Regions from separate parts of the Homo sapiens genome. Here regions 2, 3, 4, 5 and 6 are each linked to region 1. The links come from fine-mapping of genetic effects on gene expression. A gene starts in region 1. Each other region holds a variant in brackets. All regions are shown on one strand. Distances are between the middles of the regions. Region 1 holds the start of CCR1 (C-C motif chemokine receptor 1). Region 2 has its middle 78 kb from the start of CCR1. Region 3 overlaps CCR3 (C-C motif chemokine receptor 3). Region 4 has its middle 39 kb from the start of XCR1. Region 5 overlaps CCR5AS (CCR5 antisense RNA). Region 6 has its middle 8.9 kb from the start of CCR3.

Region 1 (4,000 bases):
GAGAGATCCAATCAGCCCTCTTTCTGGAGAGAGTCAGGCTAACGGTCACTAACAAAGCTGTGTTGGCAGTTTCTAATTTCTGCAGCCACAGCCATTGCTGATGAGGGCAGACAGTTCGGTTTGATAGTCAGCACTTTTCGGTGGGCTGGCAGGTTAACAGTGGAAGTATGCAAATAGCTTGGAAAGCACAAAGAGCAGCTAGTGCAAGCCTGATCCCATGAGTCCAGTTTCTGGGAAGGTTTGGCAAAGGCAAAGGCAAGTTGAGTCAACATTGTCAGGTGGCATTTTAAACCGAGTCACCTCCATACACCCCCTACCTCCAACCCATTTGTTATTTCCCCAACTTGTTAAGCCCCAGGCAACCACTCCAAGGCATGCTGTTCCTAAAGGGAGGTGATCTGGGGTGGGGCCCGAGAAGAGAAACCAAAGGACCATGTTGTCATCTAATCTGCCAGCCCTGCTGTAGTCTACTGCAGAAGTCTGCCTCAAGGCCACTGCACAGTGGTCAGCTATAGCCCTGGATCCTGGACCCTCCACTGCTAGTGTCCTCCAGCCTGGGAGTTGGTGAAGTCTCTGAGCAGAGATAGAGCAGTCTGTGATGGTGAAAGACACCCAGGCCTATGGTGCGCTGGCTGGCTTATACTGGTTTATAAATGCCAATTGCGTGCATCTCTTCCCCACTCCACATTCAGCATGTTGGTAGCTTGAAACTGACCACAGTGGGGGCATTTATACCATGAAAATCAACAAATGTTATAAAGCAGGGATCTTTTCTTCAGAAGAGTCAGTTGTTGAACATTTACCAGCACATCACTGCCCAGGCCCCACATTCTGAACAGTCCAGCACTGTCCCACTGCTCGGTGCGGGAACTAAAGGATCAGTGAGTGGCACATAGCCTGGTGCCAGGTTGTGCAAACTTTTGGGAGTTTCCATCTCTTCTTTGAAATCTGGGACCCACCAAGACCACCTATGAAGTAGATACCTATACGGAGCCACCATGCCCCTCTATCTTCAGAACAAAATCCTGACCTGTGTCTTTGTTAGTAGAGCAGAACAGATGCCCCCCAAGATCACCTGGCCAGCTCCTTGCCTTTGGGTGAGTGAAAGCCTACCTCTTCCAAAGATAGCAGTGCCAATTTTGAGGATCCTTGGTTCTAGTCTTCTTAAGAGATAGGTTCAGTATCAAATCATCCTTGCATCTGCCAAGATTTTTCTAGCTAATATTTCCCTCTTGCTATAATTTCTTCATACACCATGTTTGGTTTTCCTTTACATGGGGGAATTTGGCAAGCAATTTTTTTTTTTTTTTCAGACAGACTCTTGCTCTGTCGCCAGGCTGGAGTGTAGTGGTGCAATCTCAGCTCACTGCAACCTCCACCTCCCGGATTCGAGTGATTCTCCTGCCTCAGCCTCTTGAGTAGCTGGGACTACAGGCATGCGCCACCATGCCCGGCTAATTTTTATTTTTAGTAGAGACAGGGTTTCACCATATGGCCAGGATTGTCTCCATCTCTTGACCTCATGATCCACCTGCCTCGGTCTCCCAAAGTGCTGGGATTACAGCCGTGAGCCACTGCGCCCCGCCAAGTAATTTCTTATTGAATAGGTTTCCACAGAAAACACCTTTTGTCCCTTAGTACTGACTGACTTTCTTAATCAGTAACCAAAAGCCAATCCTTCAAGTAAGCTTCCTTTTTAGCAAAAAAGCCTATATTTCATCTGAGCACCCAGCTTTATAAATCCACCATTCTCAGTATTGCTACAGTATTAATTGCCTTGGAGATGCATCCATGGGCTACTTAGACATTTGCCCAGCCTACTCAAAGAATTCCCCCTACCTTTGAGGAGCCCCTAGCTGCATGCATGTCTTTGAACAACACTGCCCTCCACAGTAACAGATAAGACAGAAAAGACAAGTGACACTTACTCTGGTTCCAAGGGACTTTGTCCGTGAAGTCTTTGTTTCTGGGGCTTTCTGGGTTTTTATGAATTCAAGTTTCAAGATCCTGACCAAGTAGGAAGTACTCAGCTTCCTGTGTGATGATGGAGAATTGGCTCCAGTTTCACAGTCTTTCAAAATGACAAGAAAGGGACAAAGTTCTTCTTTTTGTGTGGTTTGGTGCTCATGAATGGCCACAACGCCCACCAGTGGCCACTTCCTGGAAGCCAAGTTAACTGCGAGGATTTTCTCTGCTCACTCTGAGCCTCTTGAGTCTTGGCCCTGGGAGCTCAGCCTTAAGGGAATTGGGGGCAGGTGAAGCTGAGTTGGGTGAGGTGGGTGGCAGTGAGATGTTCCCAGAATGTTTGGAGCAATTGAAGTGTGGGATGTGTGTATGTGGGATGGGGGCAGGGCATAGAGCTCTTGTGGTCAGCGGCAGACTTCTTTTTTTTCTTCTTCTTAAAGATTGTGAATGGAAGGATTTAAACTGGAACCCTGAGTCCTGTTCCTCAAAACTAACTGACATGGGTGCTCACAGAGGCAGCAGCTTCTCTTTGGCACCCTATGCCCCTCGGCTTCTGGGAGCTCATTGTCCCTCTGCTCTCTGCTCCCCAAGTCCCTCCCCACCAAACCTCAGAGAGTGGCTTTGCCCCAGGAACCTCCAGCATGAAGGGAATATAGGTCTGTTGGTTACATTTTGACCTTCCCTTTCTGATGCCCCATTCCTGTTTTACGTGATGGTCAAACATGGGCCAAGTTCAAATCCCAGCTCTCCACCTGTGACATGGGCAGATCACTCACCTTTCTAAGTCTTGGTTCCTACTCTGCTAAATGGGAGTATTGAATGCTTACCTCAGAGGAGAAGCACGAAGTCAACTTGTACATGAAAAATGTCAGAGTGCCTGGCACAGTGAAAAATGTCTGACAAATGATGAGTACTGTGACTCTCCTCACAACTGCCAACACCTACTCTGCCTCTGCCCTTGTGTCTTCTATAAAGTGGGGACACCCCTAACCTTCCTCACGGCATTGCTACAAAGCACTGTTTCAGAAATCATCAGTGTGAATGTGCTTTGAAAAGATCACTTGTCTCTTCATGGTTCAGTTTTCTTATCTGTAAAATGAAGAATTCAGACAAGATGGCCTAAGCTTGACATCTGATCATCACTCAGCTTCACCCCAAAGAAATAAATGGGGGTCTGCATGTGCCTGGCTATTTGCAGTACTTTGCTGGTGGATCAGTTTCCAAAGAGAACAGAGGCTTGTGAGGCCTGCCTTTTCCTTGATCCTGTCTAAAGTAAGGGACATGGTCAGTACCTCATCCTTGACCAGGCTTCCAGCTCTGCTCTAGGTTTCATTCCACAGAGGGGATGTACCAGGCAAATCTGCTTGTTCATTGAACAAATATTTATTCAGTACTCACAATGTGCCGGACATTGTGTTAGGTGCTTGGGATATAGTGGTGAAGAAAGAGGCTGGATCCATTCTTTGAGAGCTTATAGCTTAGGAAGGATCACAAACAATTAACCAAGTTACCACAATGAGGAACAGCTTTTGTAGTGGCCTGGGAAATACCCTGGGCTAAGGAAGGGTGCATCGAGGGTGGGAAGGGGTGAGGAAGTCCTTTAGAGCAGTGGTTCTCAAAGTGAGGTCCCTGGACCAGCAGCATTCACATTCCCTGGGACATTGCTAGCCATGCAAGTTCTGGGGTTACATGCCAGATATACTGACTCAGAAATCCTGGGGATGCGGCCAAGCAATCCAGGTTTTGACAAAGACTGGCATGATTCTGATGCATGCTTAAATTTGGGGGGCATGGATCTAGATTTTCTCAATGCTTTTGGCTCAGAGTCCCATGTGATCTTTCTTCAGAAGAGTTAGGCTGGACCAGCTATGAGCTAGGAAGCCTTCTTTCTCTCTTTAGCTCAAGGCCTAAACAAGAGGCTGCTCAGTTGCCTGCTCTGTCTCCCCTCCCACACCCACACTCAGGTCTCCTATGGCCTTGCAAACCCCTTAGTGCACACACCCCTCTCACCACAGCAGATGTGTACAATGGGGGC
Region 2 (4,107 bases), 78 kb before region 1:
AATCGATATTTCTCCAAAGAAGAGATACAAATGACCAGTAAGCCCATGAAGAGATGTTCAACATTCCTAATCATTAGGGAAATGAAAATCAAAACCACAAGAAAATACCACTTCACACCCAATAGTATGGCTTTTAGCAAAAAAGAAATACACACACACACACACACACACACACGCACATACACACACCAGAAAATAAGTGTTAGAGAGTATGTGAAGAATCTGGAACCCTTGCGCACTGTTGGTGGGATTGTAAAATGGTGCAGAGGCTATGGAAAGCAGTATGACAGTTCCTCGAAAAATTAAAAATAGAATTTTCATGTGATCCAGCAATTCCAATTCCGGATATACACCCAAAAGATTTGAAAGGAAGGACTCAAACAGATATTTGTACTCCCAAGTTTATAGTGCATTATTTGCAATAGCCAAAAGGTGAAAACAACCCAAATATCTATAGACAGCTGAATGGATAAACGAAATGTGGTATATAGGTACAATGGAATATTATTCAGCCTTAAGGAAATTCTGACACTTACTTCAACATGGATGAACCTTGAAGACATTACACTAAGTGAAATAAGCCAGTCACAAAAAGAGAAATACTGTATGTTTTCACTTACATAAGATAACAAGAATAGTCAAATTTACAGAAGCAGAAAGCAGAATAGGGGTTGCCAGGGGCTGGAGGGAGGGAGGAGTTAGTGCTTAATGGGTACAGAGTTTCAGTTTGGGAAGATGAAAAAGTTCTGGAGATGGAAGGTAGTGATGGTTGTGTGATATGAGAGTACTTAGTGCCTCTGAACTGTACCCTTAAAATGGTTTAAAATGGTACATTTGATTATATATATATATATATATATATATATTACCACATTAAAAAACCTGGAAATTTGGGGCATTATATATTATGAGACTTTGGAACTTTTTTAAACCTGCTGGCTTTGGAGGGGAAGGGAGCTGGCTTTGGAGGGGAAGGGAGGGTGCTGCCGGGTTTGTACAAGGTAGAAGTTCTGTTCATGGCCCAAAATGGCAGAGCCAGTACTTGACACCATGGCTTCTAATGATAGATCTAGCTCTCTCGGATACCGAGGGCCAGCTGACGTTAGACATCATGGATTTGTGTTTTCCCTACACCTGGATGAATTTCTCTAGCAGGTTGGGCACAAAACTAGAGAAATGGGATTGCGAGACAGGGTCAAGGTTGGGTTCTTCCAGGCAGGCATCTCAGAAGAGCATACCTGGAGTATGTTCAGGGAGTGTCCAGGGGTAATGAGGCCATACCCACCTCACGTGTGGTCAATGGAGTGTACTGGTAAGGACTATGTGACTTAATCAAGAATTAAGTGAAGACAGCAAGGGGATGATAATATCCAGGGGAAATGGTGGGTCGAAGTTTCTAGGGAGTGCTTGATGGGGTGGAAACACAGGTGGGGGTGATGGTAAGGAGGATGTGCAAGAATAGGCACTATAGGCAGTTGTGGTTAGAGAAGGAGATGCTAAAGATTTCTTGATAGGGCAGATCCTGGAAGTGACAAGATTTGTGGTGTGGGTAGCTGAAAGGTGGGGGAGGCAAAGGATTTGAGGTCAAGAAATGCAAGGGCATAAAGGTAAAATCTTTCCCAAGATTACACCAGTAGTCCATGGGAGAGGTGGGACTCAAACCAGACTCAGAATCCAGAGAGGAGCTGGAGAACACGGGGCATGACCAAGGGGGTGAGGAGTGGTGGGGATGATGAGTGAGAAGGCTGGCCCAGGCAGCTCTCATGATGCTCAAAAGAGATGGGTGTTTGCATGCACAGCTTAGAAGGGAACACAGGGTGAAAGAAGGATGCTGGCCTTACAGCAACAATGTTCACTTGCAGAGTTTTTTGGTACCTCTGTGCACTGTGCCT[G/T]GTGCTAGGGACATTGAAATAAAAGATATAGGTGCTGCCCACAGGAAACACACAGTCACTGGGAGAGGCGGGCACATAAGCCCATCTGCAAAACAGAATGATACTCTGATAACCGCTGTTGGACCAAGCAGTGAGGGAGTGGCCCTGGCTGGAGTGGTGAGGTCAGGCACAGGAGGGAGGTGATGCTTAGGCACTTTGTGCGAACTTCACTAGTTGGGCCTGATGGAGCAGACGCAAGAGTGGGGTGGAAGGATACAACTGAGAAAGAGTCTGGTGTATTCAGGAGCCTCTGCGTGGCTTGGCGTGGGGAGCACCAGGACCATATGTCAGGGGATGAGGGTAGGCAGGGCCCTCACTAGGTCGTGTCTGCAGTTTGGCCTGAGTGTCATAGGAGGGGAGTGACAGGGAACAATTTGCATTTTAGAAAACGTGAAAGGGCAGATGAAAAAAATGAGCACAATGACTGCAGTATAAAATGTATTACTAGGCCGGCACAAGTAAAAATGAACAGGTTCTTAGAGGAGGATTATGTTCTCATTCCTTTTCAGGAAGTTTCCTTTATCATGACATTGTTTTTACACCAAAATGTGATTACTGTAAAAAGGGAACTGTGGTTAGTGTGAAAAGGGAACAAGCATGGAGTTACCAGAATCACATTTTCCTGACTGGAAAGAAGTCACAAGAAAACAACAGAGAACACTCACTCCATGTTCAGCATGAAGGAGAACTGCATGATCCAGGGAGGTTTAGGGGACCAAGAAGGTGGATAGGCTCTAACTGGGGCAGGCAGCAGGTGCGGCTGCAGAAAAGCGAAGGACTCCGAGCCCCGTGGTGCCTGCCTAAGAGTGAGCCAAACTCAGAAAGCCTGAGGCCCTTCTAGATGAAAGGTGACTGATGCAAAGCTTGATCCCAGATTGGATCTGGGTTATGGGAAGACAGCTCACCAGGGACTATTTAAGGGCAATTGGCGAAATGTAGACATGGAAGATGGACCAGACAACAGCATGAGATGAATGTTAAATTTCCTGATTTTGATCCTTGTTCTGTGGCTATGTAAGAGAATGTCCTTACTTTTAGAAAATACACATGGGGCATTTTTGGGAAGTTTTTAAGGGCATGGTGTCTGTAACTTACTCTCAAGCAGTTCAGGAAAATAATATATAAATTAGATATGAAGAGAAGTGAGGGGAGGAGAATAACACAAATGGGGGCAAAATATTAACATTGGTGCATCTGGATAAGATGATCTTTGGACAGAGTTCTTTGAACTATTCTTGAAACATCTGCATAAAATTTGAAGTTATATCAAATTTGAAACTTACAAAGAAAAGGCTTAGGGTTGGATTCTGCTTGGGCTGGAACATAAACTCAAGGTGAGAATATAGCCAACTTTGTGAATAGAGCAACTGAACCAATACTGGGTTTTTTGTTTTCTTTAAAAATCATTCTCTGTGGAAGATCAACTTAAATCTATTCTGCCAATATTGATAATTACTGACTAGCATGTGGTTTTATTTGCACTATCATTTTAATGGTGTTTACTTTATATATTAATTTTTGGCCTAATTAATTGGAGGCTTCCAGAAGGACGATCCCCTGGAACAATTTTCCTTGTGTTTCCCCCTTTTTGTTCTGCAAGCGTATAGCGTATGGCAGCAAGGAGGATCTCATTGCTCTCAGGGAGGGTGCAGGACACAAGGGCAGTGTGTGGCCTGATGAAAGCTGCTTGTCCTGGGAGCCCTCAGCACACAGAACTTTAGTAGAAGGGAAACCCTTTCACATCAGGAGCCAGAAGCCTTGTTAGGGGAGGGACTGCAGATATTGAGTCGAGCAAATCTGGCAGGGTGGCTTACGGTGAGAGGAAAGGACTAGTAGGCCAAGGGCAAAGGTAAATTCACCAGGGCAAAGGCAGTCTGAGCTAAATGCAAGAGCCTGGGCTTTGCTGTGTGTATGCAGGGAGATTATGGAATAGCACAGCCAAGACCAGCAGCCTCCTGGCCCAGCGACTATGGCATGGGGCCACGCCCTGGGAACGATGGAGCTCCAGGCTTGGAGCATGTGTGAGCTGAAGGACCTCCAGGTGGAGGCTGGTGGGTGGCACCTCGACAGTAGTCTGAAGCGAGCCAGAGCAGCGAGGGCCTTGCCTCATCAGCAAGCAATTGTCCCTGGGGCTGCACCAGTCAAGGCTTCAACACTGACAATGTGATGTCTCTAG
Region 3 (4,107 bases), 39 kb after region 1:
ACAAAACAAAACAAAACCTAAAATGAATCCAAATATGATTATTTTCCTTTTTTTTAACTTTTATTTTAGGTTTGGGGGTACATGTGAAGCTTTGTTACGTAGGTAAACTCGTGCCATGGGGGTTTGTTGTACAGATTATTTCATCACCCAGGTATTAAGCCTAGTAGCCAATACTTGTTTTTCTGCTCCTCTCCCTCCTCCCACTCTCAAGTAGACCCCTGTGTCTGTTGTTCTCTTCTTTGTGTTCATGAGTTCTCATCATTTAGCTCCCACTTATAAGTCAGAACATGTCGTATTTGGTTTTTTCCCTGCATTAGTTTGCTAAGGATAATAGCTTCTAGCTCCATCCATGTTCCTGCAAAAGACACTATCTGTTTTTTTATGGCTGCATAGTATTCCATGTGTATATGTACCACATTTTCTTTATCCAATCTGTCATTGATGGGCATTTAGTTTGATTTCATGCAAAGGCTATTATTTTTCATACAAAACATTCCAAGTTCTGCCAACTATGGCTGATGTTTTGGGACTGTTATCATCCTACTTCCTTCTATAGTCTAGGTTGATACTAACCCTCTTAAAATTTGGTGCCTGGAACAGAACATAATATTTCAGATGTGTAGTCTGGACAGTGCAAAGCAGAGTAAAAATTATTCTACTCCATCCTTTCATACACTTAAGAAGAGTTTATTAAGCATCTTTCATTTGTCAGGCATCATGCTGGACACTAGGCCTGTACTGTCCACTATGGTGGCTACTTGCTTTTATGCGTGTCCGTGTGAAGAGACCACCAAACAGGCTTTGTGTGAGCAACATGGCTGTTTATTTCACCTGGGTGCAGGCGGGCTGAGTCCGAAAAGAGAGTCAGCGAAGGGAGATAAGGGTGGGGCCGTTTTATAGGATTTGGGTAGGTAGAGGAAAATTACAGTCAAAGGGGGTTTGTTCTCTGGCGGGCAGGAGTGGGGGTCGCAAGGTGCTCAGTGGGGGTGATTTTTGAGCCAGGATGAGCTAGGAAAAGGACTTTCACAAGGTAATGTCATCACTTAAGGCAAGGACCGGCCATTTTCACTGCTTTTGTGGTGGAATGTCATCAGTTAAGGTGGGGCAGGGCATATTCACTTCTTTTGTGATTCTTCAGTTACTTCAGGCCATCTGGGCGTATATGTGCAAGTCACAGGGGATGGGATAGCTTGGCTTGGGCTCAGAGGCCTGACATTCCTGCCTTCTTATATTAATAAGAAAAATAAAACAAAATAGTGTTGAAGTGTTGGGGTGGCGAAAATTTTTGGAGGGTGGTATGGAGAGAGAATGGGCGATGTTTCCCAGGGCTGCTTCAAGCGGGATTAGGGGCGGCGTGGGAACCTAGAGTGGGAGAGATTAAGCTGAAGGGAGGTCTTGTGGTAAGGGGTGATATTGTGGGGATGTTAGAAGAAACATTTGTCGTATAGAATGATTGGTGATGGCCTGGATATGGTTTTGTATGAATTGAAAAACTAAATGGAATAAGAGAAGGAGAAAAACAGGTATAAAAGGTCTAAGAATCGGGAGGACCTAGGACATCTGATTAGAGAGTGCCTAAGGAGATTCAGCATAGTCCTGCCAGCAAAGATTATTTATTTACTTCAAGAGTTAAGAGCGGCGGTTTGGGGATAGCACGAGGAGATATCAGCTGTGATGGCTTGAAAAAACAGTGTAAACTGGCAGTGTAAACAAGAGCAGGGCATGTATGAGTAGTTGAGAACAGAGAACAGGAGTATGACTAGATAGAAAATAGTAGGGATGACAAGTTTTTTTGGGGCACAGTCTAAGGTGGTCCGGTGTCTGGAATGAGACTGGGGGCCTAATGAAAAGGAGCATCTATACAGGAACTTAAATGGGCTGTACCTTATAGCATTCCGAGGACAGGTCTGACTTCTGAGAAGGGAAAGTGGTGAAAGTATTGTCCAGTTCTTTTTAAGTTGGTGGCTGAGCTTGGTGAGGTGTGTTTTTAAAAGACCTTTAGTCCGTTCTACTTTTCTTGAAGACAGAGGACTATAAGGGATATAAAGGTTTCACTGAATACTAAGAGCCTGAAAAACTGCTTGGCTGATTTGACTAATAAAGGCTGGTCTGTTATCAGACTGTATAGAGGTGGGAAGGCTAAACTGAGGAATTATGTCTGACAGAAGGGAAGAAATGACTGCGGTGCCCTTCTCAGACCCTGT[A/T]GGAAAGGCCTCTACCTATCTAGTGAAAGTGTCTACTTAGACTAAGAGGTATTTTAGTTTTTGTGACTCAGGGCATGTTGAGTAAAGCTAATTTGCCAGTCCTGGGCAGGGGCAAATCCTCGAGCTTGATGTGTAGGGAAGGGAGGGGGCCTGAATAATCCTTGAGGAGTAGTAGAATAGCACATAGAATAGCAGATGGAACACTGAGAAGTGATTTCCTTGAGGATAGATTTCTACAATGGAAAGGAAATGAGAGGTTCTAAGAGGCAGGCTAGTGGCTTGTACTATAGCATAGCCTGCCTTTGCTGGTGTGTGGTGATTAGGCCTGGTGGAACTGCCATCAATAAATCAAGCATGATCAGGGTGAGGAACAGGAAAGAAGGAGATATGGGGAAATGGGGTGAATGTCAGGTGGATCAGAGAGATACAGTCATGAGGGTCAGGTGTGGTTTCTGGAATAATGTGGGAGGCTGGACTGAAGTCCGGGCCAGGAATGATGGTAATTGTGGGAGACTTAACAAAGAGTGAGTACAGCTGAAGGAGCCAAGGAGCAGAAAGTATATGCATCAGGTATGAGGAAGAAAATAGATTTTGGAAGTTATGAGAAATGTAGAGAGTGAGTTGAGCATAGTTTGTGATTTTTAGGGCCTCTAAAAGTATTAAAGCAGTGGCAGCTGCTGCATGCAGACATGAGGGCTAGGCTAAAACAGTAAGATCAAGTTGTTTGGACAGAAAGGCTACAGGGTGCAGTCCTGGCTCTTGTGTAAGAATTCTGACTGCACTAACCATGCCTAGGAAGGAAAGGAGTTGTTGTTTTGTAAGGGATTGAGGTTTGGGAGATTAATCGGACAGGATCAGCAGGGAGAGCACGTGTGTTTTTATGAGAATTATGCCGAGATAGGTAACAGATGACGATGAAATTTGGGCTTGACTGAAGTAATGGGGGCTGTCTGTGAAACCTTGTGGCAGTACAGCCCAGGTAATTTGCTGAGCCTAATGGGTGTCAGGGTCAGTCTAAGTGAAAGCAAAGAGAGGCTGGGATGAAGGGTGCAAAGGAATAGTAAAGAAAGCATGTTTGAGATCCAGAACAGAATAATGGGTAGTAGAGGGAGGTATTGAGGATAGGAGGTTATATGGGTTTGGCCCCACGGGGTGGATAGGCAAAACAATTTGGTTGATAAGGTGCAGATTCTGAACTAACTTGTAAGGCTTGTCTGGTTTTAGGACAGGTAAAATGGGGGAATGGTAAGGAGAGTTTATAGGCTTTAAAAGGCCATGCCTTAGCAGGCGAGTGATAACAGGCTTTAATCCTTTTAAAGCGTGCTGTGGGATGGGATCTTGGCATTGAGCAGGGTAAGGGTGATTAGGTTTTAACGAGATGGTAAGGGGAGCATGATTGGTCGCCAAGGAGGGAGTAGAGGTATCTTATACTTGTGGGTTAAGGTGGGGGAATACAAGAAGAGGACGCAAAGGAGGCTTTGGATTGGGAAGAAGGGCAGCAATGAGATGCGGCTATAGTCCAGGAATAGTCAGGGAAGCAGATAATTTGGTTAAAATATCTCGGCCTAATAAGGGAACTGGGCAGGTGGGGATAACTAAAAAAGAGTGCATAAAAGAGTATTGTCTAAGTTGGCACCAGAGTTGGGGAGTTTTAAGAGGTTTAGAAGCCTGGGCATCAATACCCACAACAGTTATGGAGGCAAGGGAAACAGGCTCTTGAAAAGAAGGTAATGTGGAGTGGGTAGCCTCTGTATTGATTAAGAAGGGGATGGACTTACCCTCCACTGTGAGAGTTACCTAAAGCTCGGCATCTGTGATGGTCTATGGGGCTTCCGAGGCGATCAGGCTGTGTCAGTCTTCAGCCGCTAAGCCAAGAAGGAGTCAGTCAGAGAGCCTTGGGCCA
Region 4 (4,107 bases), 140 kb before region 1:
AGAGACAAAGTCTTGCTGTGTTGCCCATCCTGGTCTCAAACTCCTGGCCTCAAGTGATCCTCCCACCTTGGCCTCCCAAAGTGCTGGGATTACATGTGTAAGCCAATGTGTCTGGCCCCTAATGATTATTTAACAATAATAATACCAGTATTCAACATTGACTGAACACATATCATGTGCCAGGCACTGCGTAATTATTTGTTAGACTCTTTTAGACTACAGTCTCCATAAGGGCAGGGATCATGTCTCTGTATTGTTCATTGGTCTGTCTCTCCAGTGCCTAGGGCAGTAGCTGGCACATACCAGGAACTCAACAAACATGTATGGAGTAAAAAAATCCCACAATGAGCCTTGCAAGTTTTTCCTAGCTCTCTTGTATCATGGGAGGTTAAATATGGCTGCAAATTCTTTACTGCTCCTCCCACTGAGAGATGAAGTCCAATTCCACTCCCTTGAAATCCCTCATTGACTTGCTTGACTGATAGAATGTGGCTGGAGTGACATTCTTGGACTTGTAGCTCATAAGAAGCCTTGCAGCTTCCACCTGGGTCTCTTGGAACATTCTCACTTGGTGCTCTGACCACCACTTTCGAAGTGCGACACATGAAGCCACCATGCTGGTGAGGCCACATGCAGGAATGGTAGATGGTTCCAGCTGCGCCTAGCTCTCCAGCCTTCTCTGCTCAGCCCCAGGTATCCACCAGCTCAACAGCACCAAGGGACCCCCACTGATGCCACTTGGAAGAGTTACCCAGGGCGGGTGCAGTGGCTCACGCCTGTAATCCCAGCACTGTGGGAGGCTGAGGTGGGTGGATCACCTGAGGTTGGGAGTTCAAGAACAGCCTGACCAACATGGAGAAACCCCGTCTCTACTAAAAATACAAGATTAGCCGGGTGTGGTGGCGCATGCCTGTAATCCCAGCTACTCGGGAGGCTGAGGCAGGAGAATTGCTTGAACCAGCAAGGTGCAGGTTGTGGTGAGCCAAGATCCCGCCATTGCACTCCAGCCTGGGCAACAAGAGAAAAACCCTGTCTCAAAAAAATAAAGAAATAAAAAAAAAGGAAAAAAAAATAGAGTTACCCAGCCAAGCTCTACTCAACTTTCTGGGTCACAAAATTATAAGATCTAATAAAATGGTTCTTTTAAGCCTCTACATTTTGGGGCACTTTGTTATGTAGCAATAGTCAAAACAAGTAATATTGGTTAGGGGAAAATCCCCAACCTGCTTTTCCTTCCCACCTTCACCCATCCCGCACTTTCAGGCTCCCCTTAGGGACTGTTACCTGCAGGAGTCTTGCTAGCTTTCTAGCAACTTAACTTTGATGTGGCTTTAAGAGAGGTGCCTGAGCTTCCATTTGCCACACTCTGGGGAATCCCCCAAATGCTAACCTGTCCACTCTACAACAAGCTCCGGCAGCTGAGCTGTTCTGGGCCACCTGCCAAATATCATATGATACTCCCTTGATGTCGGGTGACAGTAAAATTCACCGACTCCTGGGTGGAGGCCCTTTTCTTTGAAGCCTGCTCTGCTCACCCAACCACACACAGCCCACTTACACGGCATCACCAATTAGAGTTGGGGAAATGCAGGTGGTGGCCCCGGGCTACACCAAGCTCCACTGCTGCCTTGCTCTCTGGGTCAGATCTGTCTCAAGCAGAGCAAATTACTGCTGGAATCACCAGGGCTGTGAGGAGCTTCAGAGAATGACCAAGGTTAGCACTTAGAGGACTGAGCCCTGGGCGGTGTGCTCTAAATGTGTGTAGGGTCCTAGATGAAGGCTTTTGGATATTTCTGGTAGCACCAAAGACTAAACAGGCATTTGAGAAGCTTGAGGCGTCTTTGCCTGCTCCAGGGCCTCCGGAAGAGGCCACGTAGGGATGTCCCTGGGGCATTTGCTAACTCATTCTCAGAGGAAGATCCGAGGAAAATATATTCACTCCCTTGTCTCACTCCTTTGCTGCTCAAGCACATAAGGGTGGGTGGAAGGAGGGAGGCTAGCGACAGCATTCCTGGTGGAGGGAGCGAGGGTAGTAAGCACAGAGTGTGTTGTGATGCAGCAAGACAGGCTCACTAGGACCAGACCATGTAGTCTCAGACATACTCCTTGGTGCTCTTGGGCACAGCCTGCCTTCCTTCCTTCCTTCCTCCCTCCCTCCCTCCCTCGCTCTCTCTCTGCTTCTTTTCTTTTCTTTCTTTTTCTTTCTTTTCTTCGGAGTCTCACTCTGTCACCAGGCTGGAGTGCAGCAGTGCAATCTCAGCTCACTGCAACCTCCACCTCCCGGGTTCAAGCGATTCTCCTG[C/T]TTCAGCCTTCTGAGTAGCTGAGACTACAGGCACGCACCACCACGCCCGGCTAATTTTTATATTTTTAGTAGAGACGGGGTTTCACCATGTTGGCCAGGATGGTCTCAATCTCTTGACCTCTTGATCCACCCACTTGGGCCTCCCAAAGTGCTGCAATTATAGGCGTCGGCCATCCCGCCCAGCCACAGCCATCATTTCTTAGTGGGAAGTTGGTGTGGACTACACTAGGTGAGGCTCCTGGCATATATAGGTTCCCAGGCTCCACCCAGACCTGTAGAAACAGAAGCTCTTTGGATGGGGCCCAGGCCTCTGCATTTGTAACAAGTGTCTAAGCAGTCATGAAGAAGGAAGCCAGGCAGAGTAGAGGTTAATTCCATGGGTCTGGAGTTAGACCACGGGGGTTTAAACCCAGGTTCTAGCATTCAGTGCCTATGCAATTTTGGCACCTCAGTTTTATTATCTGAATTGCAGATAATTATAACACCGACTTTACTGAGTTGGTGTGAGGATTAAATAAATTAATATGAGTTAGATACTTACTACATAGATGGTGGGTCCTCAATAGCTGATTTTTCCAGCAACCTGAATGATGACAGTAGTGCAATGAGGAAGCCATATACCTGCAGTACAGAGTCAGACCTCAATACATGCTTGCTGAAGGGAGGACAGGAGCATAGCATATTCAGCCAGGCCATTGGCACAATCAGGCTGTGAACATTTGTTTTCACAGCTGGGCATAGCATACCTCTAGGTGCTGGGGGTTCAAAAAGGAATACCTGTGAAGATACTTGTGAGGTCACAGATATGGAAATGGATGATTAGGAGGCAGTGTGGTAAGTTCTATGTGAGGGGCAGGCTCTGAGCATAGCAGCTTTGAAGAGGCAGGTTAGGCTTCCTGGAGGAGGTGATGTCAAAGGGGGATCAGAAGGACAAGTAGGAGTTATCCAGGGAGAGGGGGCTGAATGCCAGATCTAGGGGAATATTCATGCACTAGTGGATATTCTGGGCCATCAGGGGGTTCAGTGTGGGTGAGGTGCATGGTGTAAGAGGCAGGAACATCAAGGTTTGAGACTGGAAAGATAAGCAGCATTAGCTGGTTGGATTGAGATGAGTTGGGCTAAATTGGGTTCCATGCCTTCAGTTCTGGCCAGCTCATGTCACCCATAGCACATTCTTACCACAAAGGTCACCTGTGTGTCCTTGAATAACACTCCTCCCTGGATTAGTCAATTATACACTGCTTTGGTGCCCAGAGCTATGAAAGGTCACAGAGGCCCAAATTCCTGCCCCAGGGAACACATGATCACTTTCTATTAGAGGACTGTTAACTAACTTGGGGACCATATTTCAAAACTGTCACATGGAGATTTAGGGAAAACCTCCTGGAAGAAGTGGCTTGGCTAAGTTTTGAAAAGTGCATAGGGGTGAGAACAGGGAGAGAAGAGGAAAGAGGACATGCTGTGGAGGGGCCAGCAAACGAGAAACTCAGGAGGCAGAAAATCTCAGGTCTGATTCAAAGGACTCTGGCTCAAGAGGGGAAAGTGTGTGCTAAGATGGGTGGTGGGAAAGGCAGAGGAGGGAGGCAAAGGTCTTTGTGTGTTAAGCTATAGAATTTGAAATTAGTGTTGAATGCAGAAATAATGAAAGATTTTAAGCAGGGGAATAAGGTCATTGGTGGATTCACTAGGATGCTCTTGGCTGCCAGTAACAGAGCACATGACTAAAGTGGCTTACATAGAGGGAGGCTGATAATTTCTGTTAGGAAGGTAGTTCTAGGGCTGATGCAGCAAATTCTACCAGCCTC
Region 5 (4,107 bases), 160 kb after region 1:
TCCCGGAGGGTCTACCTATGCCAGACTGGGTTGGAAACAGAAAGACAGATGTTAATGCCAGTGTCCTTTACACCTCCAAGTCCAGGGCCAGCTGTGGAGTGGGAGGGGTAGAGAAGGTCCTGTGCACAGTCACAGTGCGCTGTGCAGAGCAGGAACAGAGGCATCTGTGAAAAGTGCTGAGAGCCTGGAGGACAGAGTGACTAATGCAATGACAGTCTTGCATCATAGGAATAACAGCCACAGCAGGATTTTATTGCTGCCAAAGAAACTGCCATTTAAAAATTGCCAGCCATCCGGGAGGCTGAGGCAGGAGAATGGCATGAATCCAGGAGGCGGAGCTTGCAGTGAGCCGAGATCGGGCCACTGCACTCCAGCCTGGGCAACAGAGCCAGACTCCATCTCAAAAAAAAAAAAAATGCCAACCATCTCTCTTTCTAAAGTGGAATCCTCAAGTCTCGTTTATTCTGGGGACATTTGAGTAGGCTGTTCGAGTTAAGCAGGTGGAAGATGATGATCCCTCATCATCATTCTGAGGGATGAGTGTCTGAAGACTTTTTGGTAAGGAAGGGTCTTGGCATAGCCCACCCCATGCCACCTCCCTTGATCTGTGATATCCCCAGCAGCTGGGGAGGTTGGAGCATTTTGCAAAGAGGCCCCGAAGCCTCCAGAAAGTAAACCTTCAAGAGCCCATCCTTCCTTCCTCTTTTGTTTTTGCTCATTATGAAAACTTCCCTGACAAATTGAAAAGGCTTCAGGTGAGATTAGCCCACAGGAAAAACCACCAAGGGCCACCCAGAGGGGCCACACTGTGACAGAAGGAGTATGGGCTGGTGAGCTGACCTCTGGAAGACAGTGCATGAATTGAGGAGAAGAGATTGGTTCCAGGCATGGGAGGAATGAGGCTGGAAATTTCTTCAGACATTGCCACTTCGGCACTCTGTGTGTGTGTGTGTGTGTGTGTGTGTGTGTGTGTGTGTGTGTGTGTAAACAGAGTCCTGTAATGCAAGGTCCGGCCTTGGCAGCCCCAGCCTGGAGCCACAGTGAGATGTGAGCCGAGGGTTATGCTGGGAAAAACCTCTCCCTCCCAGCACCTGAAAGGCTCTGCAGGCCCAGCAGCTCAGCAAGCAAGGGTAAGGGCATGGACTAACATCTTATTTCATACTATCCCTTATAACACATCCTAATGTAATCAGCTCACAATATGAAATTATTTCATTTCTCTCCAGTCATTGTTTCAATGGGGCCTTAGGGTTGACTGGATTCTGGAGGGCCCTGCCTAGAGGAGGGGGTGCATTCTGTCCCTATGTCCCCTCCTGCTCCATCCTCCACAGCACGTGCCTAGTGGTCTACCTTGTGGGGAATTCTTGTACCTCCCTCTTCTAGGCATGGACTAGCATTGAGAAGTGGGAGAGGAGTGTTAGGAAAAAGGGCAAATATAGACATACCTTGTCTTATTGTGCTTTACAGATATTGTTTTTGTTGTTGTTGTTGTTGTTTACAAATTGAAGGTTTGTGGCAACCCTGCCTCGAGCAAGTCTATTGGTGCTGTTTTTCCAACAGCATGTGCTTGTTTTACATCTCTGTGTCACATTTTGGTAATTCTCCCAATATTTCAAACTTTGTCATTATTTCTATATCTGTTATGGTAATCTGTGATCAGTGATCTTTGATGTCACTATTGTAGTTGTTTTGGGGCACCATGAAGTGCACCCATGTAAGATGGCAAACAATCAATAAATGTTGTGTGTGTTCTGACTGCTCCATGGACTGCCTGTTCCTGAGACACAATAATGTATATATAACAATTATATATATATATATTTATAACAATTATATATATATATATATAT[A/T]TTTTTTTTTTGAGGCAGAGTCGCACTCTGATTGCCCAGGCTGGAGTGCAATGATGTGATTTCAGCTCACTGCAACCTCTGCCTCCCCAGGCTCAGGTGATTCTCCCACTTCAGCCTCCCAAGCTGGGACTACAGGTGTGCACCATCACACCCGGCTAATTTTTTTTTTGTATTTTTAGGAGAGACAGGGTTTTGCCATGTTGCCCAGGCTGGCCTTAAACTCCTAGACTCAAACAATCCACCTGCCTCAGCTTCCCAAAGGGCTGGGATTACAGGCATGAGCCACTGTGCCCAGCCCAAGACACAATAATATTGAAATTAAGCCAATTAATAACCCTACAATGGCCTCTAAGTGTTCAAGTGAAGGGAAAAGTCCCACGTCTCTCACTTTAAATCAAAATCTAGAAATGATTAAGCTTAGTAAGGAGGACATATTGAAAGTCAAGGCCAAAAGCTCACCTCTGCACCAGTTAGCCAAATTGCGACTTCACAGGAAAAGTTCTTGAAGGATATTTAAGCTCTACTCCAGGGAACATGCAAATGAAGAGAAAACAAAGCAGCCATATTGCTAATATGGAGAAAGTTTGAGTGGTCTGGAGAAAAGATCCAACCAGCCACAACATTTCCTTAAGTCAAAGCCTAATCCAGAGCAAGACTCTAACTCTCTTCAATGCTATGAAGGCGGAGAGAGGTGAGGAAGCTGCAGAAGAAAAGTTTGAAGCTAGCGGAGGTTGGTTTGTGAGGTTTAATGAAAGACAACATCTCCATAACATAAAAATGCAAGATGAAGCAGCAAGTGCAAAGGGAGAAGCTGTGGCAAGTTATCCAGAAAATCTAGATAAGATAATTGATGAAAGTGTCTACACGAAACAACAGATTTTCAGTGTAGACAAAACAGTCTTATGTTGGAAGAAGATGCCATCCAGGACTTTCACAGCTAGAGAGGAGATGTCAAGGCAAGCTGCAAAGCTCCACAGGACAGGCTGACTCTCTTTTTAGAGGTGAATGCAGCTGATGACTTTAAGTTGAAGTAAATGTTCATTTACTATTTTGTAAATCCTGGTGTCATTAAGAATTATGCGAAATCTACTCTATCTGTGCTCCATAAATGGAACAATAAAGCCTGGATGACAACACATCTGTTTACAGCATGGTTTACTGAATATTTCAAGCCCACTATTGAGAACTATTGCTCAGAAAAAAAGATTCCTTTCAAAATATTACTGCTCTGCACCATGTCGATCAAGAGCTGTGTTGGAGATGTACGAGAATATTCATGTTGTTTTCATCCCTGCTAACACAAACATCCATTCTGCAGTCCATGGACCAAGACTTTCAAGTCTTATTAAGAAATATATTTCATAAGGCTATTAAGAAATAGCTATATATATATATATAGCCTTATATAGTTTATATAGCTACCATTGATAGTGATTCCATTGATGGATCTGAGCAAAGCAAATTGAAAAGCTTCTGGAAAGTAGTCATTATTCTAGATGCCATTAGGAACATTTGTAATTCATGGGAGGAGGTCAAAATACCAACATTAACAGGAGTGTGAAAGACATTGATTCCAACCCCCATAGATGACTTTCAGGGGTTCACGTCTTCAGTGGAGGAAGTCGCTGTAGATGTGGTGGAAACAGCAAGAGAACTAGAACTAGAAGTGGAGCCTGAAGTTGTGACTGAATTGCCGCACTCTCATGATCAAACTTGAACAGATGAAGAGTTGCTTCTTACATATGAGCAGTGAAAGTGGTCTCTTGAGATGGAATCTCCTCCTGGTGAAGATGCTGTGAACACGGTTAAAATGACAACAATCGATTTAGAATATTACATAAATTTAGTTAATAAAGCAGTGGCAGGGTTTGAGAGGATTGACTCCAATTTTGAAAGAAGTGGGTAAAATGCTATCAAATAGCATCACATGGTATGGAGAAATCTTTTGTGAAGGGAAGAGTCGACCAAGGTGGCAAATTGCATTGTCATCTTATTTTAAGAAATTGCCACAGCCACCCCCAGCTTTAGCAACCACCACCCTGATCAGTAAGCAGCCATCAACATCAAAACAAGACCGCCATCCTCTTCAGCAAAAACACTATGACTTGCTGAAGGCTCAGATGATGGTTAGCATTTTTAGCAATACAATATTTTTAATTAAGGTATGCACATTGGTTTTTCTGACATAATACTATTGCATACTTAATAGACTACAGTATAGGATAAACACAACTTTTATATGCACTGGGAAACCAAA
Region 6 (4,107 bases), 25 kb after region 1:
CTATTATCTATCTATCTGTATTAGTCAACGAGCACAAAGTTTCAGTTACAGAAGATGAATAAGTCCTAGAGATGTACTGAACAGCATGGTGCCTCTAGCTAACAACACTGCATCGTATACTTAAAAATGTGCCAAGAGGGTAGATCTTACGTTAAAGTAATAATCTTGATAAATAGGACAGGAGGAAACTTTTGAAGTGATAGTTGTGTTTATGGTATAGATTATGATGAGGGTTTCACAGGGGTATATTTCTCTCCAAACTCATCAAGTTGTATAGATTAAATATGCACAGCTTTTTGTATATTATACTTCAATAAAGTGGTTTTTAAAAAAGATCCATTATTCATCCACCCCTCTTATCTTGTTTCAGGAGAAACAAGATCTATTGATCTATCCCATCTCTTTCCCTGCCCCAATGTCTCTCTTGCATTTCCAGGGGCCCATGTGACAGTGTGAGGTACCATGGAAATAAGAACTTCACATATTTTACTTGGGTAACATTATATGAATTTGTTCCTGTTTATTGGAAGTGCATTGTTTTTGCATTTAATTAGGAAGTATTTTCCATATCCTGGGGAGAAAAATGTATTTTCTGCATAATTTCTAAATCATTGTTCAATTTTTTTCTTCATCGTCATATTTATTTACTGAGTTTGATACTAGATTTTTGATGTTCTTATAAAAAAATGAAAATGAGCAAAATGAAACACACAGAATGGTTAGAGGAACAAGCAACAACACAATCCCTCACGGGAATGCCCTGAAGGAATATGTTGAAGCTAATTTGAACATGAAGGTTACGTCTGTCCAGATCTCTAAAAGCAGCCACCAAGCAGGTTTTACACAGGGAAAGATTTTGTTGGAAAAGCACCTGGGAGGGAAAGTGGGCTGGAGCAGGAAGGGCTGGGAAAGCCGGCAGAACCCCAGTGAGGTAGCAGGGGAACCAAGCGGTAGTAGACGCATCCTAGACTGTTCTGCAGCCTGAGGAAGGTTTGGCATAGCCACGTGGGGGTCCTTAAGCTAATGTCAGTGCATCTCTAGGGATTGGGCCTGCCTCAGTATCCCTGTGTGCTCAGTCATTGGAAGCACAACATTGATTTCAGAGCCTGCAGAGGGGTCTTAGGCTTTCTGGAGTGGGAGGGGCATGTTCATGGCTGCACCGGTGGTTTGCCCCATCCTTGGTGCCATTCTGGATGTGATGTTGCACTGATGGTAAATATCAAGGCCCAGATCAATGCTAGACTCTTGTTCACCTGTTATCTTGAAATCACAGGTGGCCCACCACCTCCCCCAATAGCACAGCTTCCACGTTCTCACTCCTGTCTCTTTTGTAGAATAGGCTATCTATCAGGGGAATAATCCTTTTTTGTGTTTTTCTAGATGAAGTCTTGCTCTGTTGCCCAGGCTGGAGTGCAGTGGCACAATCTCGGCTCACTGCAACCTCTACTTCCTGATTTCAAGCAATTCTCCTGCCTCAGTCTCCCGAGTAGCTGGGATTATAGGCACACGCCACCACGCCTGGCTAATTTTTGTATTTTTCGTAGAGACGGGGTTTCACCATGTTGGCCAGGCTGGTCTCGAACTCCTGACCTCGTGATCCACGTGTCTCAGCCTCCCAAAGTGCTGGGATTACTGGCGTGAGCCACTGCACCCGGCCCATAGTCCTTTTTGTAAAGCTTTCACAGGAGGGTGACGTGCTGTCAGTGGAGGGAACACAGAAATACACAGGATTGCCAACGTGCTAGAGAGGGGCCCTGCTGGCTACAAAAGTCCTTCCACTAACTTCACTAGAAAAGTGACAGTAAACACAAGTCTGGCTGGAGCCCCACATTTCTGGCCCTGGTGCCCGGGAAGGAAGGTGGGTGCATTAAAGGAAGCTTTGCACTTCTCCCTGCTGCTCTGGCAATCGTTTCCGTTCACATGCTCAAGGTTGTGGCTTGACCTATGCTCTCCTGCAAAATATTGCTGACCCTTTCCTATTTCTGAGGTTCTTTG[C/T]TTTTCCCCTCCCATGTTCCCATACTCCTAAGCTATCTTCTGCGTGTGTTGTTGTTGTTTTGGCTCTTTTTTCCCGCCCCCCAGAAATGTGTCTGCTTCAGTGTAATGTGGCAGTGAGAATCTGGGAGATTGGAAGACATTTGTGTTTGGTTGGGTTTTCCCACACACCTCTGTTTTTCCTGTGAGCTAAGAACCCCAAAAGAAGCATCAAAAATTTCTTTCCCGTGGTAGGAAAAGCCAGGACAGAACGAGCCATTCTGGACCTTGGGGAAACCACTTTGTGTTCTGGTTTCCTTCAGGTTTGATGCCATCCTCACCTTTGGCTGAAGGGCAACAGGCAACTCTTCTTCAGACGGCAGTACCATGCCGGAAAACAGAGCACCATGTGGCTAGCCCAAGCTCTGGGGTAGAGCCAGCTCTGCCCTTCACTCTCTGTGGCTTTTGCCAAGTCCCTCATTGAGTCTCAGCTTCCCCATCTGCAACACAGGGGTAAGGTAGCAGGGTTGCAAGAGCATCCTGCCACCTCCTGGGCTGCAATGGATACCCCGTCAAGGTAAGACAATGGACAGGGGGCAGTATGCCCTTGTAGTGCCTGTGCATGCATCAGGCCGGCACTGCTCAGAGTGCTCCTGAGGCATCCTGACCTTGAGAGATGTTAACACTTGTCATTTGAAAAGTATTTTTTTTCTAAGTTAAAGATAGGTTTGAGAAATGCTGGATTAGGAAGGTTTCAAACAGATTCATCACTACAGGACTTCTCAGGGGCCTTTAATGCACTGTGAATCTCCAGGAGTGTTTTCTAACAGTGCATGCTTTTATCCTAAGAGACATTAAATGTATTGGGATGGATTCATTGGTTTAATCAATGGGTAGTTCATGAGAAGCTTCAACCTGAAAGGCCTGAGGGCTCTTGATACCCAAGAAAGCCCAGGGGAGATCCTTGACATCTGTGAAACATCAGATCCAAGATCTCCCAGAGTGACCACATACCCTTTCAGAGTCCACTTGGGCTCCAGATGTTATCTGGAGCCATATTTCTACCAAGAATTTATGTGGTTGTGCTTATCCTCACATAAATTAAGCCTCGTTTTAACATTCTATAAAGCTTAGTCTTGCAATTGATGAGCACTCATTGCCCTAACTGGAGCACCCCACAAAATACCCCCTGATTTCCCTTGTTTTTATGTGGAACACACAGTAGAGTCACTCCCATGAAGATCTGAGTCACTGCTGAATTCCATATTCCTGTCGATAATTTATCCCAAATTTATGTTTTCTGCCCCAGAACCACTGCTTTTTAAGATTTCTTTATTATGGCTTTCCTTCCACCACCATCACCAGCATTTAGCTTGTTTTATGAAGAAATGAAGCTCTTTGGTTGTTTAAATCACTTCTGGGGAATTCTAAGGCTACAGTGAGTGGTGAGGATGGAGTTGACCAGGTCCACTCACCAGGTGGAGGGCTCACGCCCATGCATAGCCCCCATTCCCACATCCCACTCCCTTTCTCCTGAAGGGAGCTCAAAGGGTCTACATCTGGCTTCTCTCCACCCCTCTACTGGAGGTGGAGTGGCTTTTAAATTGGTCAGATTTGGAAAGAATAGCTGGGAAGCCTTAGCCCAGCTCTGCTCCTCTTCCTCTTGAAAGAGAGCTGCCTGTCACTCAGTAGATACATCTGTACAGTTCTGTGGTTTAATTAACAGGCTTCTTTTTTCCCTCACTCCCCCACCTACCCCCATATCTTAACTTGCTCAGATCCCAGACAATAAAGGGGGCAGGGGACAGGGAAGGGCTTCTTTCTCTCCAGAGGATACTGAGCACCAGAAGACTAAGTAGGCAATAAATGCCACAGGAGTGTGGAAAGGGAGGTGAGTACCAAGGCCTGCTACATTAAGACATAACAACACATGCTATCATGGTTAGCATTGGAGGCGCACTTCCTACAAGCACTTCTCATAGGCTAGCTCACCCAATTCTCACATCCCTGCAGGTACTATAATGATCTTCATTTATAGACAAGAAAATTGAAACTTTCACATTGCTAATAACTCACTGGGATTGGAGTCCATTCTTTCTAAGCAGAAAGAGATATCTTTGTGGAGAAACTGAATCT

What was found. PIP is the estimated chance that this variant, and not a neighbour inherited with it, causes the effect.
Region 2: its variant is fine-mapped to the expression of CCR1 in whole blood (TOPMed, PIP above 0.99).
Region 3: its variant is fine-mapped to the expression of CCR1 in whole blood (INTERVAL, PIP 0.92).
Region 4: its variant is fine-mapped to the expression of CCR1 in blood mononuclear cells (TOPMed, PIP above 0.99).
Region 5: its variant is fine-mapped to the expression of CCR1 in whole blood (INTERVAL, PIP above 0.99).
Region 6: its variant is fine-mapped to the expression of CCR1 in whole blood (TOPMed, PIP above 0.99).

What each region holds. Positions count from the first base shown.
Region 1 is chr3:46,206,354-46,210,353 of GRCh38, forward strand. It overlaps CCR1 (C-C motif chemokine receptor 1), which reads right to left and starts at 1,960. Exons shown (of 2, transcript NM_001295.3): 1 at 1,929-1,960.
Region 2 is chr3:46,128,316-46,132,422 of GRCh38, forward strand. No RefSeq gene overlaps it. Among named protein-coding and RNA genes, the nearest start is that of CCR1, 78 kb to the right of the region's middle. The variant G/T (reference allele first, on the strand shown) is at 1,893.
Region 3 is chr3:46,245,511-46,249,617 of GRCh38, forward strand. The region is part of intron 1 of CCR3 (C-C motif chemokine receptor 3); the gene reads left to right. Among named protein-coding and RNA genes, the nearest start is that of CCR3, 5.1 kb to the left of the region's middle. The variant A/T (reference allele first, on the strand shown) is at 2,205.
Region 4 is chr3:46,064,056-46,068,162 of GRCh38, forward strand. It overlaps a transcript of XCR1 not described here. Among named protein-coding and RNA genes, the nearest start is that of XCR1, 39 kb to the left of the region's middle. The variant C/T (reference allele first, on the strand shown) is at 2,303.
Region 5 is chr3:46,361,403-46,365,509 of GRCh38, forward strand. It overlaps CCR5AS (CCR5 antisense RNA), which reads right to left. Exons shown (of 4, transcript NR_125406.2): 4 at 2,582-3,643. Among named protein-coding and RNA genes, the nearest start is that of CCR5, 7.5 kb to the right of the region's middle. The variant A/T (reference allele first, on the strand shown) is at 1,851.
Region 6 is chr3:46,231,474-46,235,580 of GRCh38, forward strand. It overlaps a transcript of CCR3 not described here. Among named protein-coding and RNA genes, the nearest start is that of CCR3, 8.9 kb to the right of the region's middle. The variant C/T (reference allele first, on the strand shown) is at 1,996.